3 linked regions of the Homo sapiens genome follow. The protein of the gene in region 1 interacts with the protein of each later gene in a biochemical or structural test. Each region holds a gene or a part of one and is shown in the gene's direction. Other genes may lie near its edges.

Region 1 (3,727 bases):
CGAGTGGTTAAGTTAATCTGTAACATTTCACAGCCCCATGATAGAATTCCTGCCGATGTGGAGCTCGGCCAAGGCAGTGAACGGCATCAAAACTCCAAACACTTTTAGTCCCTAGGAAGACCCTCGGTTAAGATTTCTCCCCAGAGTGCCCGGGCCCTTTAGTCCTACAAAACCAAGGAAAGGGAGGCAGCATAGCTGCATCCGCCAGGGGATGCCCACCACCCACCTGTCCCCCGGCTCTGCTCCAGCATCCGTCTGTCCTCTTTAGTGCCATATTTCACCCTCAGCCCCAGTGCAGGTGCCCGCAGCCAAGCCCACACCAGCTCTGGGGCACGCCTGTTCCAGTTGCATTTGGATACTTTTGCAGGTGTGAGAGTTGGGTGCTAAACGTTGGGAGGTTTGTTTATATTAAAATATAGAGGTAGGTGGGGCACAGTGGCTCACATCTGTAATCCCAACACTTTGAGAGGCCAAGACAGAAGGATCACTTGAGGCCAGGAATTTAAGAGCAGGTTGGACAACATAGTGAGATTCCCCATCTCTACAAAAAAAAAAGAAAAAGAAAAAATTAATGGGACATGGTGGCATGCACCTGTAGTCCCAGCTACTTGGCAGGCTGAAGCAGGAGGATCGCTTGACCCCTGGAGGTTGAGGCTGCCTTGAGCTGTGATGGCACCACTGCGATTAGGTGTGGTGGCTCACACCTGTAATCCTAGCACTTTGGGAGGCCAAGGTGGGTGGATCACCTGAGGTCAGGAGTTCGAGACCAGCCTGGCAAACAGGGTGAAACCCAGTCTCTACTAAAAATACAAAAAATTTAGCTGGGCATGGTGGTGGGTGCCTGTAATCCCAGCTACCCGGGAGGCTGAGGCAGGAGAATTACTTGAACCCGGGAGGCGGAGATTGCACTACAGCCTGGGACACAAGAGTGAAACTCCGTCTCAAAAAAAAATTAAATAAATAAAAATAGGCCGGGCACGGTGGCTCACACTTGTAATCCCAGCACTTTGGGAGGCCGAGGTGGGCAGATCACGAGGTCGGGAGATCGAGACCATCCTGGCTAACACGGTGAAACTCCATCTCTACTAAAAATATAAAAAATTAGCCGGGCGTGGTGGCGGGCACCTGTAGTCCCAGCTACTGGGCAGGCTGAGGCAGGAGAATGGTGTGAACCCGGGAGACGGAGGTTGCAGTGAGCCGAGATCGTGCCACTGCACTCCAGCCTGGGTGACAGAGCGAGACTCTGTCTCAAAAAAATGAAAATAAATAGGCCGGTTGTGGTGGCTCACTCCTGTAATCCCAGCACTTTGGGAGGCCGAGGGTGGTGGATTACCTGAGGTTAGGAGTTTGAGACCAGCCTGGCCAACATGGTGAAACCCCGTCTCTACTAAAAATACAAAAAAATTAGGCAGGCATGGTGGCACACTCCTATAATCCCAGCTACTCGGTAGGCTGAGGCAGGAGGATTGCTTGAGCCCGGGAGGTGGAGGTTGCAGTGAGCCAAGATCGTGCCACTGCACTCCAGCCTGGCTGACAGAGCGACTCTGACTCTAAATAAATAAATACATACATAGATACATGGTAACTTAGTTCCCTCTCTTTCTTTTGTATTGACACCAGATTTACTCAATACTGTTTTAGTTTGTCAGTCCAATAAGATGAGAAAATAAGTATGAGATGCAACTTGGAATTAAAGTGATCAAATGTTTGCTCTGACAGATAAGCTTCAGCACCTGTTAACTTGGAGAATCAAGTGAAACTCCACCGGCTTCATGTGGAAGCTCGTCAGGCAGCATCACAACATGTACATAACCCAAGAGCCGTTCTGTACAAGGTTCTCCTTAAAATATAATGGGAGGCCGGGCGCGGCGGCTCATGCCTGTCATCCCAACACTTTGGGAGGCCGAGGTGGGTGGATCATGAGGTCAGGAGTTCGAGACCAGCCTGGCCAACATAGTGAAATCCTGTCTCTACTAAAAATACAAAAATTAGCTGGGTGTGGTGGCGCACACCTGTAGTCTCAGCTACTTGGGAGGCTGAAGGAGGAGAATCACTTGAACCCAGGAGGCAGAGGTTGCAGGGAGCCGAGATGGCACCATTGCACTCCAGCCTGGGTAACAGAGCAAGACTCTGTCTCAAAAAATATATATATATACAGGCCAAGGCAGGCAGATTGCTTGAGCTCAGGCATTCGAGACCAGCCTGGCCAATATGGTGAGAATCGCATCTGTCCCCAAAGTACAAAAAAATTAGCTGGGCGTGGTGGCACACGGCTGTGGTCTCCGCTATTCTGGAGGCTGAGGTGGGAGGATCGCTTGAGCCTAGGAGGCGGAGGCTGCAGTGAGCTGAGATCACACCACTGTTCTCCAGCCTGGGCAACAGAGCAAGAACTTGTCTCAAAAAAAGAATAAAACTAAACTAAATCTGTGCAGAGCTCTGCCCACAGCCGATACATACGCTGCATTCCTTGAGGCCTTGCTGTCTCCGCTCCTTCTGTCTATGCCCCGTCCTGCCTCTCCATCCTCAGGGACAGGACCGGTGGCGAGGGGCCCCCGGCCACCCTGGGCTGGGACGGCATCTGCTGGGGCTGCTGGGTCAGGCCTGATGCTTTTTGTTTTCCCCAAGTGTGCAGCTGGTGCTGAGAGGTGATGGTGCTGCTTGTCCCCACACAGGAGGAGGAAGGTGAGGACGGCGATCCATCGTCAGGGCCCCCAGGGCCGTGTCACAAGCTGCCTCCCGCCCCCGCTTGGCACCACTTCCCGCCCCGCTGTGTGGACATGGGCTGTGCCGGGCTCCGGGATGCACACGAGGAGAACCCTGAGAGCATCCTGGACGAGCACGTACAGCGTGTGCTGAGGACACCTGGCCGCCAGTCGCCTGGGCCTGGCCATCGCTCCCCGGACAGTGGGCACGTGGCCAAGATGCCAGTGGCACTGGGGGGTGCCGCCTCGGGGCACGGGAAGCACGTACCCAAGTCAGGGGCGAAGCTGGACGCGGCCGGCCTGCACCACCACCGACACGTCCACCACCACGTCCACCACAGCACAGCCCGGCCCAAGGAGCAGGTGGAGGCCGAGGCCACCCGCAGGGCCCAGAGCAGCTTCGCCTGGGGCCTGGAACCACACAGCCATGGGGCAAGGTCCCGAGGCTACTCAGAGAGTGTTGGCGCTGCCCCCAACGCCAGTGATGGCCTCGCCCACAGGTGAGCGTGCGCCTGTCAGTGAGGAGGGGGCTTGGGGTGAGGCTGTGTCCCTGCAGAAGGCCAGAACCTCCTCATAAAACTCAGGAAACCCAGGACCGCCAGCAACAGGCAGGAGGCCCCTCTGCTGGAGGGAGTGGACTGGGCCCTGGGTCAGGGGAGTCCACGCCGTGACCTCAGGTGGGAGATGAAGGTTAGGGGACACAGCCCGACCCTGGCTCCCGCTCTGGCCCTCAGTCTTCAGGGGGTGAGCAGTGACTGCCTGTGTGTTTAGAGAGGAAACCAACCCCCAGACAGCACCAGGACAGCGGGCAGGGGACAGCGGGTGGGGGACAAGCTGGCGGGGGACAGCGGGTGGGGGACAAGCGGGCAGGGGACAGCGGGCGGCGGCTGCACCACGGGAGCCTTACAGATGCCAGGAGGGGGCCTCGCAGACGAGGAAGGGGCACAGCCTCGGCCACCGGAGGCCAGGGCGACTCGCAGCTCTTGCCCTTGCAGTGGGAAGGTGGGCGTGGCGTGCAAAAGAAA
Region 2 (3,727 bases), on another chromosome or scaffold:
GAGGTCACCTTTGGATCTGGAAGTAGAGCTGCGGGCAGGCTACCTCCAAAGGAAAGTTTTACTATGTCAGCCTCCCTTTGGCATTGCAGGGGAAAGGGCAGGAAGAGGTGGGAAGTGGGGCTGAGAAGTGTTCCCCAGGCCTCTGCTGAACACCTTCCTCTCAGATGGGCAGTCCTTGGGGAGCACCAGTTTGAACTGCTATGCTTACAGATGAGAATCCTTAGCCTTGGAAAGCAACAGGGGCTCGCTTAAGGTCACACAGCTATTTAAGGATAGGCTCCTGCTTCCCGTGCAGTGGCTCTTTCCACTATGTTCCATGGAACCAGCAGCCTCCAATCAATGTAGATTTCATTAACCATCCCCCTCATCTTACCTCCCTCATTCCCTAAGAGGAAAGGGGGGCTGAGTTAACTTGGGAACTTCATAAGGGGAGCCTCTCACTCGTTTAATGTCTCTTTTGCCTCTTGGTCTTGGCCTATAGCTTTGCTGGGACTGAAAATTTCAAAAGGAGAGGAGGTAGTTGGAAGAATTTGGCAGTCTAATGATCCCCTCCTAGCATAGTGGAGGTATTAAAAATTCCTTAAGGGCTGGGCCTGGTGGCTCACACCTGCAATTCCAGCACTTTGGGAGGCCTAGCCGGGTGGATCACTTGACCCCAGGAGTTCGAGACCAGCTCGGGCAACATGGCAAAACCTCATCTCTACAAAAAATACAAAAATTTAGCCAGGTGTGGTGGTTTGCACCTGTAGTCCCAGCTACTTGGAAGGCTGAGGCAGGAGCCTCTCTTGGGCCTGAGACATCAAGGCTGCAGTGAGCCATGATCATGCCACTGCACTCCAGGCTGGGCAGCAGAGCAAGACCCTGTCTCAAAGAAACACGAAATTTCCTGAAGAACTGTTACATCTCCACTCGTAGATAGTGTGTATGGAAGAAACAACTCTGCTCCACTAGGAAACAGTAGCAAGCCTGGCAGGTAGAACCAAGAGGGAGAAGGGGTTTCCAGCCCCCTTGCTTAACAGATAGGCTATCTGAGGCTAGAAGAGAGAATGTCCAATGTTATTTCAATTTCCCTACCTGAATCCTGTCTGGGCAGATACAGTGGGTGATAAAGGGTTAAGCCCCTGAGGCAATATTTCATAGCCTTTCTGTGTCACTCATTCCTGGGTCACCTGCCTCATTGCCCAGTTCTTTCTCAGGGATAATCTGAGCCTGTCATGCTATAGTTAAACCTTGTGTGTGTGTGTGTGTGTGTGTGTGTGTGTGTGTGTGTGTGTTGGGGGAAGGAGTTGCGAGCAGCTGGCCACCATTGCTCTTCTGCTTAACGATCTATTGGAGATTTCATAGGCATTAAACTCTCTCTGCACCCCCAACTTCTGTTCTCTGAATTAAATAATCTCAGAGTCTTCCATCTCCTCTGCTTCGTCTTATTTTTCAAACCTGTGCGTGTGTAAGTGTATTTCTAGCAAAGGCAGGCAGGGGAACCAGAACCACTACAGAGGTACAGGTGCTAGCCCAGTAAGAGTATGTTGCTCCCTCCACCTCCCCTTTTGGAATTAGGGGAAAATATGAACAATGGAGAAAATGACCTGAGGGGCTTGGTGTGGTCATAGGCAGGCATACTGGTGCTGCAGTGGCCTTTGTGACCCTTTGATGTGCATTTTTTTTCAGCATAGAGGTTTCATTGCTTTCATCTCCTACAGTTTTTACCCCCGCTGGGCTTCCAAGTGGATACTAACCCTCCATCCCTAGTGAGTATGCCTCAACCCTCCCTCTCCATCTGCTCAGCCCTTCTTGCTGGGGGCTGTGGCTCTTTTCAGGGGAATGAGGAATGGCATGACCAGTTCTGGCCCCCCTCCTTTCTGGATATGTTGGAAATATTCACAGGCCAGACTCAGTGCATTTTGAAAGAGCAAAATGTTGAGGGGTGGTGTAAGGAGTGAGGCTGGGCCACAGTGCACCTTTGTCCTGAAGTGGTGAACTAGGTCGAACCAGCTAGGTAACCAGGCCTAACAGTAAGACCTAGGACCCTCAAAGCCAATCCAGTGCCCCCTGCTATGCCTTCTGACTCAGCAGCCATTAGAAAACTGGGCACAAGACCACTCCTCCCCCAGCCTCTCAGGGCAACTTGGAGCAAGCAGACTCCCTGGTCCAATCTCCCATTTCTATATGAAGAAACTGAGGTCCAGAACAGGGAAAGGATTTGCTCAAGTTAACTCAGAAGTCCAAAGCTCCTGGTCCGCAATTCAATTCCAGAGTTCTTCCTCGAATCACACTCTCCTTGTCCCCTCCCAAGCTTCAGTTTCCTCACTTGGTTTCTCACACAGGGCATGGTTAGTAGAGGGGAGTGGACACATAGGAAAGTCAGAGGTATCCATTGTTCACTTGACCCAGCTGCTCCTCTGTAGGGTTTCCTTGGCTGCTCTGTCACATCTGTTTCTCTGGAGTTAGCTCCTCTCCTATTCTTCATTTGAACGGGGGGTGGGGAAGGGTTGGCACCTGTCTGATCTCGCTCTAGCTGGGCTAGTACTGACTTAGTGGAAGCCTATGCAGGCGGGCATGGTACCCACTTCAGATACACTTCTCTCTAAGAAAGTTTGGGAGCCTAAGATGGGAGTGGCAAGTAAGTGGCTCCCAAAGTCCCTGTCATTCAAGGCAAGCTGGGCAGGGAGGGGACCTCAAGAGCCTGAGGAGGAACCTGGGGCACTAAGAAGACTCACCAGGAAAGCCCATTTCTAGGGAGAGGTGGTATCTGGGTGACCACATCTCCCAGACTGGGCAAACCCCTGTGTATTTGGGGCTGGGGCCAAGAGGCAGAGAAACAAGGCTGAGAAACTTGTAAGGAGCATTCAGGGAGAGCAAGCCTTTAACATCAGACATAGGGTTTTGGCCCTTATCCTGTAGGCAATGCAGAATAATTTGGTAAGTGGAGGAGTGAAGTGCTGAAACAGGAGTTGTAAGAAAATGAATCTGGCAACAACGTACAGGATGAATGAGATGGGAGAGGGGAGCCAGGGGGTGCTGCGGTAGGGAGGGACTAGAGGGAGCTCAGCTAAGAGGCTTGTGTCATCTTCGGAGAATGTGGGGTGGCAATTGGGGAGCTGGAGAGGAAAAGGTGCCTACAAGTGGCCTCATCACAAGAGCCCTTTATTGAATATCTGCTTAGTATGTAGTTACCAGTTTGCTTTTACATTGATCATCTCTAATCCTTACCACAATCCTGCATGGTAGATAGCATTTTCTTCATTTTACAGATAAGGCATTTGAGTGTCAGAGAGGTTAGGCCACTTTCTCAAACCACACAGCCTATAGAAGGTGAGGCTGGCATTCCAGTTCCGCACCAAGAAACTTCAGGTGAATTAGAATTCAGTTGAATCAGCATTGTTTGAGCTCCTGCTGTGTGCTAGTTGTAGTGACTGTAAGATGAAGGAGGGTCAATTTGAGAGAGATGAATGAACAGACCAAAGCCCGTCAGGATGAATTATACAAAGCTCAGTATGTAAACAAATCAGTTGAGAGGGGCTGGTGGGGGAATTGGGACAGGAGAGAGAAGTCCCAATTTGGGGTCTTGCTGCATCTGGAGTTGGTGAGATGCCCTCTGGGCAGGAGGTGCCCCTCAGCAGGAAGGCTGCAAATTAGGGGAGGAGCTGAAGGGGCTCTGCCAGCTGCATCTACAACTCCATCAGCCAACCAAGCCAAGCAGCCCTTCCTTTAGGCTCTGACCAAATAG
Region 3 (3,500 bases), on another chromosome or scaffold:
TTTCTAAAAACCCATTCTGGGTGTTGCTGTTGTAGGAGAGATCAGCCCTCTGGTAAGATGCCATGAAGCTGTGTGTGTGTGCAAGTCTCTGTCCCTACCTTTAGAATCCATACCTCTGTCAAAATGAATTTTTTTCTCTAGGTATGTTTACCTTGCTGCCTCCTCCAGCAACTTGGTAAGTCATTTTGCTAAGATACCATGATTTTTTTAAGCTGAAGCATTGACTAAATGGAATTTTCTAAATTAAACTTGATTTTAATATTTCTTCTAGCTCCATTCCCCAGTAGGCTTAGCTCTTCAATTTGACTGCTGTTTTTGCATAATGATCAAAAGTTAGACATATTATTTCTCTTCTTCCAAGATTGTTTTAATGCTCATTAAAATGTCTTTTTACAACACATATAGACAATGTTTAAGAATTAAAAATTTAACCATTATGTTTTTGTTGTAAATCTCATATCCTTGCACTACTTTCAGCATATATCACAGTACGAAATCATTTATATATATATATATATATATATATATATATATATATATATATATATATATATTTTGTTTGTTTGTTTGTTTTCTGAGTAAAACATTTAAATATGTTCTGGTTAGAGACAATCTATTTAAAAAGATTTTTTTCTTATTAGGATTTTCCCTATATTAACAGTTTGTGATGTTTTCATGTTCTTTAGACCGGTTTTTCTCAGAATAATGTCTACATACATACCTCTTCTAATGTGTGACATGAATTTAATATCTTTCTGTTACCCACTGTGAATGTTAGGCTGTTTTCAAATTATCCACAAATTATTCTTGTAATCACCCAATATTTTTATGTGGGTCCTCTCTTACCCATTATGGATTAAGATAGTTTAACAAATTTAACAATGAGGATTAAATGAGAAGGCAAACTGTTAACTTCTCAGCTGTCAGAATTTGGGTGGAAGGGAATAATGGAAGCCTCTTTTGTGATCTGCCTGACCTGCTGTCATGTATGGTACTGGGGCTGCTACATCTTGAGCTATCAGGGCTGACCTGTGGAATGATTCTAGCACTTGCTCTGCCACCTTGCCAGAAGTTCGTTTCCTGCTTTTTACACATGTGTAGCACTTCTCTGCTAAAATTGAATGGTTTTAAACTAATGTATTTTTAGCTTAAGAGGTGTTGGTCAGTTAATTATTGAATTTTTTTTTTTTCTTTTTTAATTCTGTCTTGCCAAGGCCTCTCTGGGTTTCAGGGCCCAAGAGAAAACAGTGGAAGAAAGGATTCAGAATTTGGGCAAGGGTGAAGTAACTGTTCATGCAAGTTAAAAATACCTAAGTAAAGTTTTTGAAGATAAAATTGTGGTTTCAGAATAATGCTGATTGTTGGAGACTGTAAGAATCAGGTGCACTTGATTTTGCATATAAGCAAATGGTAAATCTATCAGAATCCTAAAACAGACAAGCATGAACTCTTCCCATTGCTGGAACTAAGTGCCCACAGTGTCAGACAAAATGGACATTGAACTTGGATTCTGTGATACACAGGGCACTTGATGCTTAAATGAAGATGGAAAGGTTAGCAATACCTGGGTGTCAGTTAGAATTTGAGAATTCTATATGTTTACATATTTAAATGTGCATCTTGATCTGGTGGGCTTCCCATGTGGAGACTTGCACTCTAATTAACTAAGAAGAATATTGCCTTGTTGGATCTCAGTCCACGTGCTTGCACTGCGATGGCAATGGCCTCTTCTTCAAAATACTAATTTGTGTGCCAATTTGTTTAAAATTATTTGAAGGCAGTTCAGCCTAATCTCAGTGTTCTCTTTCTGGGGTAGATGAGATGGATTCTTAATATTTCTGGGAGTACTTTTTAATGAGAGAATTGTCAAATTTGGAAAGATTTATTGAGCCTTAGGTTACATGGACAGTTAAGCTTAAGTAAACTGTATATTGATTATCAAACACAAGCTGTAATTGGAAAAGTTGAGAGGAAAAGCATGAGATCACAAATTAGGGGGAAAAAAGAAAAGGGATTTTTAAATTTGGTGTATTAAATTCATTGTCCAAGGGGGAAAATGAATAATGTTTCATTAGATTCCTTATATGCAAAAGTATTTATTTTGAACATGTGTCCTAAAATATATGCACTAACTGATGTGATTAAAATTGTCCAAGAAATAAACTTGAGCATAACATACTTTGTGTGCACCACAGTAAGCTATTCTGCATTGAAGTGGTCTTTTATAACTAAGGCCTGGACTTTGCTCCAACAGAGTCGTGGTCTTCTGAATAGTGACTTAAGGAGTTTTGTTTGCTTAAGTCAGATAATAGCACATTCACAGGGAAACAAAGAGAGTTGGTGGATAGAATTTTCTGACTATTAATTTTTCTTCCATGAAATTTTATTATGCCTTTGGCACTTTCTGCCACTCTTACAGCATATCACAAGATATCTGTTTAGCAGAAGATTATGTAGTTACTTTAATTTTAATATAAAAGTAGCTTGTGATACATTACCAAGAGATCTCTGATTCTTTAGTAAGTTTGAGAACACCTATTCTACAGAGATGATAGGTACTTAGAAATGAAGACTTTAAAGTACATTTTAATCTAATATAGGCCAGTAATTGGGGGAAGGGGCTTTGAGCAGTACAATTTTAAGATGATTTTGAGGGTTGTATTTCTTTATCATTTAAAAATATCCTAAAGTCAGTAATTTATATGAAGGAAACTCATTCATTATTGAAGGTATTAAAAATAGCCATCATCTGTATTAGGTAGCAGTTTTGGAGGATCATCTTTTTCTTTTGCTATAAAGCCCTATTAATGAAGAATACTTCCAGTAGAGTTAATAGCTGTAGCTTACCTAGTGTGTTAATGAAGTGTGTTTATTTATGTGACTTGATACCAGTAGTCATAATAGAGACTGAAGAGGTATGCGTTAAGCACGCCTACTTCTATGCAGTAAACAGGCTGCAGCTGCCTAGATTAGATTCTTAGAAATGTCATATTTTGAATTGTTTTATTTCTTGTAGGGGAAGCTTTGTCCCACTTCATTCATTTGCATGCCATAGGAATTACATATTGGTTATCATTACGTATCTAACAAGATTCAGAAACAAAAATCTTGGACTTTTCACATCCGAAATATGTCAGCTCTTAATAAATGTGTGGTGCTTAAGTCTACATATGGCATCCATAGTTGATTTAGAGTATGGATATGAGTGTGTTGACCAGTTATCAGTAGGTGGACAAATATTTGGGCATCTACAGATGAGACTATGCACTAAGTGTGGACTGAGTCCTAAAGAAGCTTATAGTCAGGTGTTGTTTAAAACATTATCAGAATTCTTAAACCCAAGGAATTTAATTTTATTTGGTATTTCTTAAGCCTAAAATGAACCAAGAGAAAGATGATTTTAGAAAGTACTTGTAGTGAAAGATGATTTTAGAAAGTACTTGTAGTGCATGTGTGGCTTCTGACTTTTGGGATGGCACCATTTTATAATAGTTTCAAAA

The links.
Region 2: the proteins of AXIN1 (region 1) and AMER1 form a complex in vitro, tested with the Homo sapiens proteins (one study listed by BioGRID).
Region 3: the proteins of AXIN1 (region 1) and LRP6 interact in far-western blotting, tested with the Homo sapiens proteins (one study listed by BioGRID).

The regions. Positions count from the first base shown.
Region 1 is NC_000016.10:297,197-300,923, reverse strand, and holds part of AXIN1 (axin-1), read left to right. Parts: intron 1-1,719; coding exon of another isoform or gene 1,720-1,740; exon of another isoform or gene 1,741-1,913; intron 1,914-2,625; coding exon of another isoform or gene 2,626-2,649; exon of another isoform or gene 2,650-2,664; intron 2,665-2,672; coding exon 2,673-3,202; intron 3,203-3,697; coding exon 3,698-3,727. UniProt on the Homo sapiens protein: Component of the beta-catenin destruction complex required for regulating CTNNB1 levels through phosphorylation and ubiquitination, and modulating Wnt-signaling.
Region 2 is NC_000023.11:64,198,996-64,202,722, reverse strand, and holds part of AMER1 (APC membrane recruitment protein 1), read left to right. Parts: intron 1-3,727. UniProt on the Homo sapiens protein: Regulator of the canonical Wnt signaling pathway.
Region 3 is NC_000012.12:12,117,045-12,120,544, reverse strand, and holds part of LRP6 (low-density lipoprotein receptor-related protein 6 isoform b precursor), read left to right. Parts: 3' UTR 1-3,500. UniProt on the Homo sapiens protein: Component of the Wnt-Fzd-LRP5-LRP6 complex that triggers beta-catenin signaling through inducing aggregation of receptor-ligand complexes into ribosome-sized signalosomes.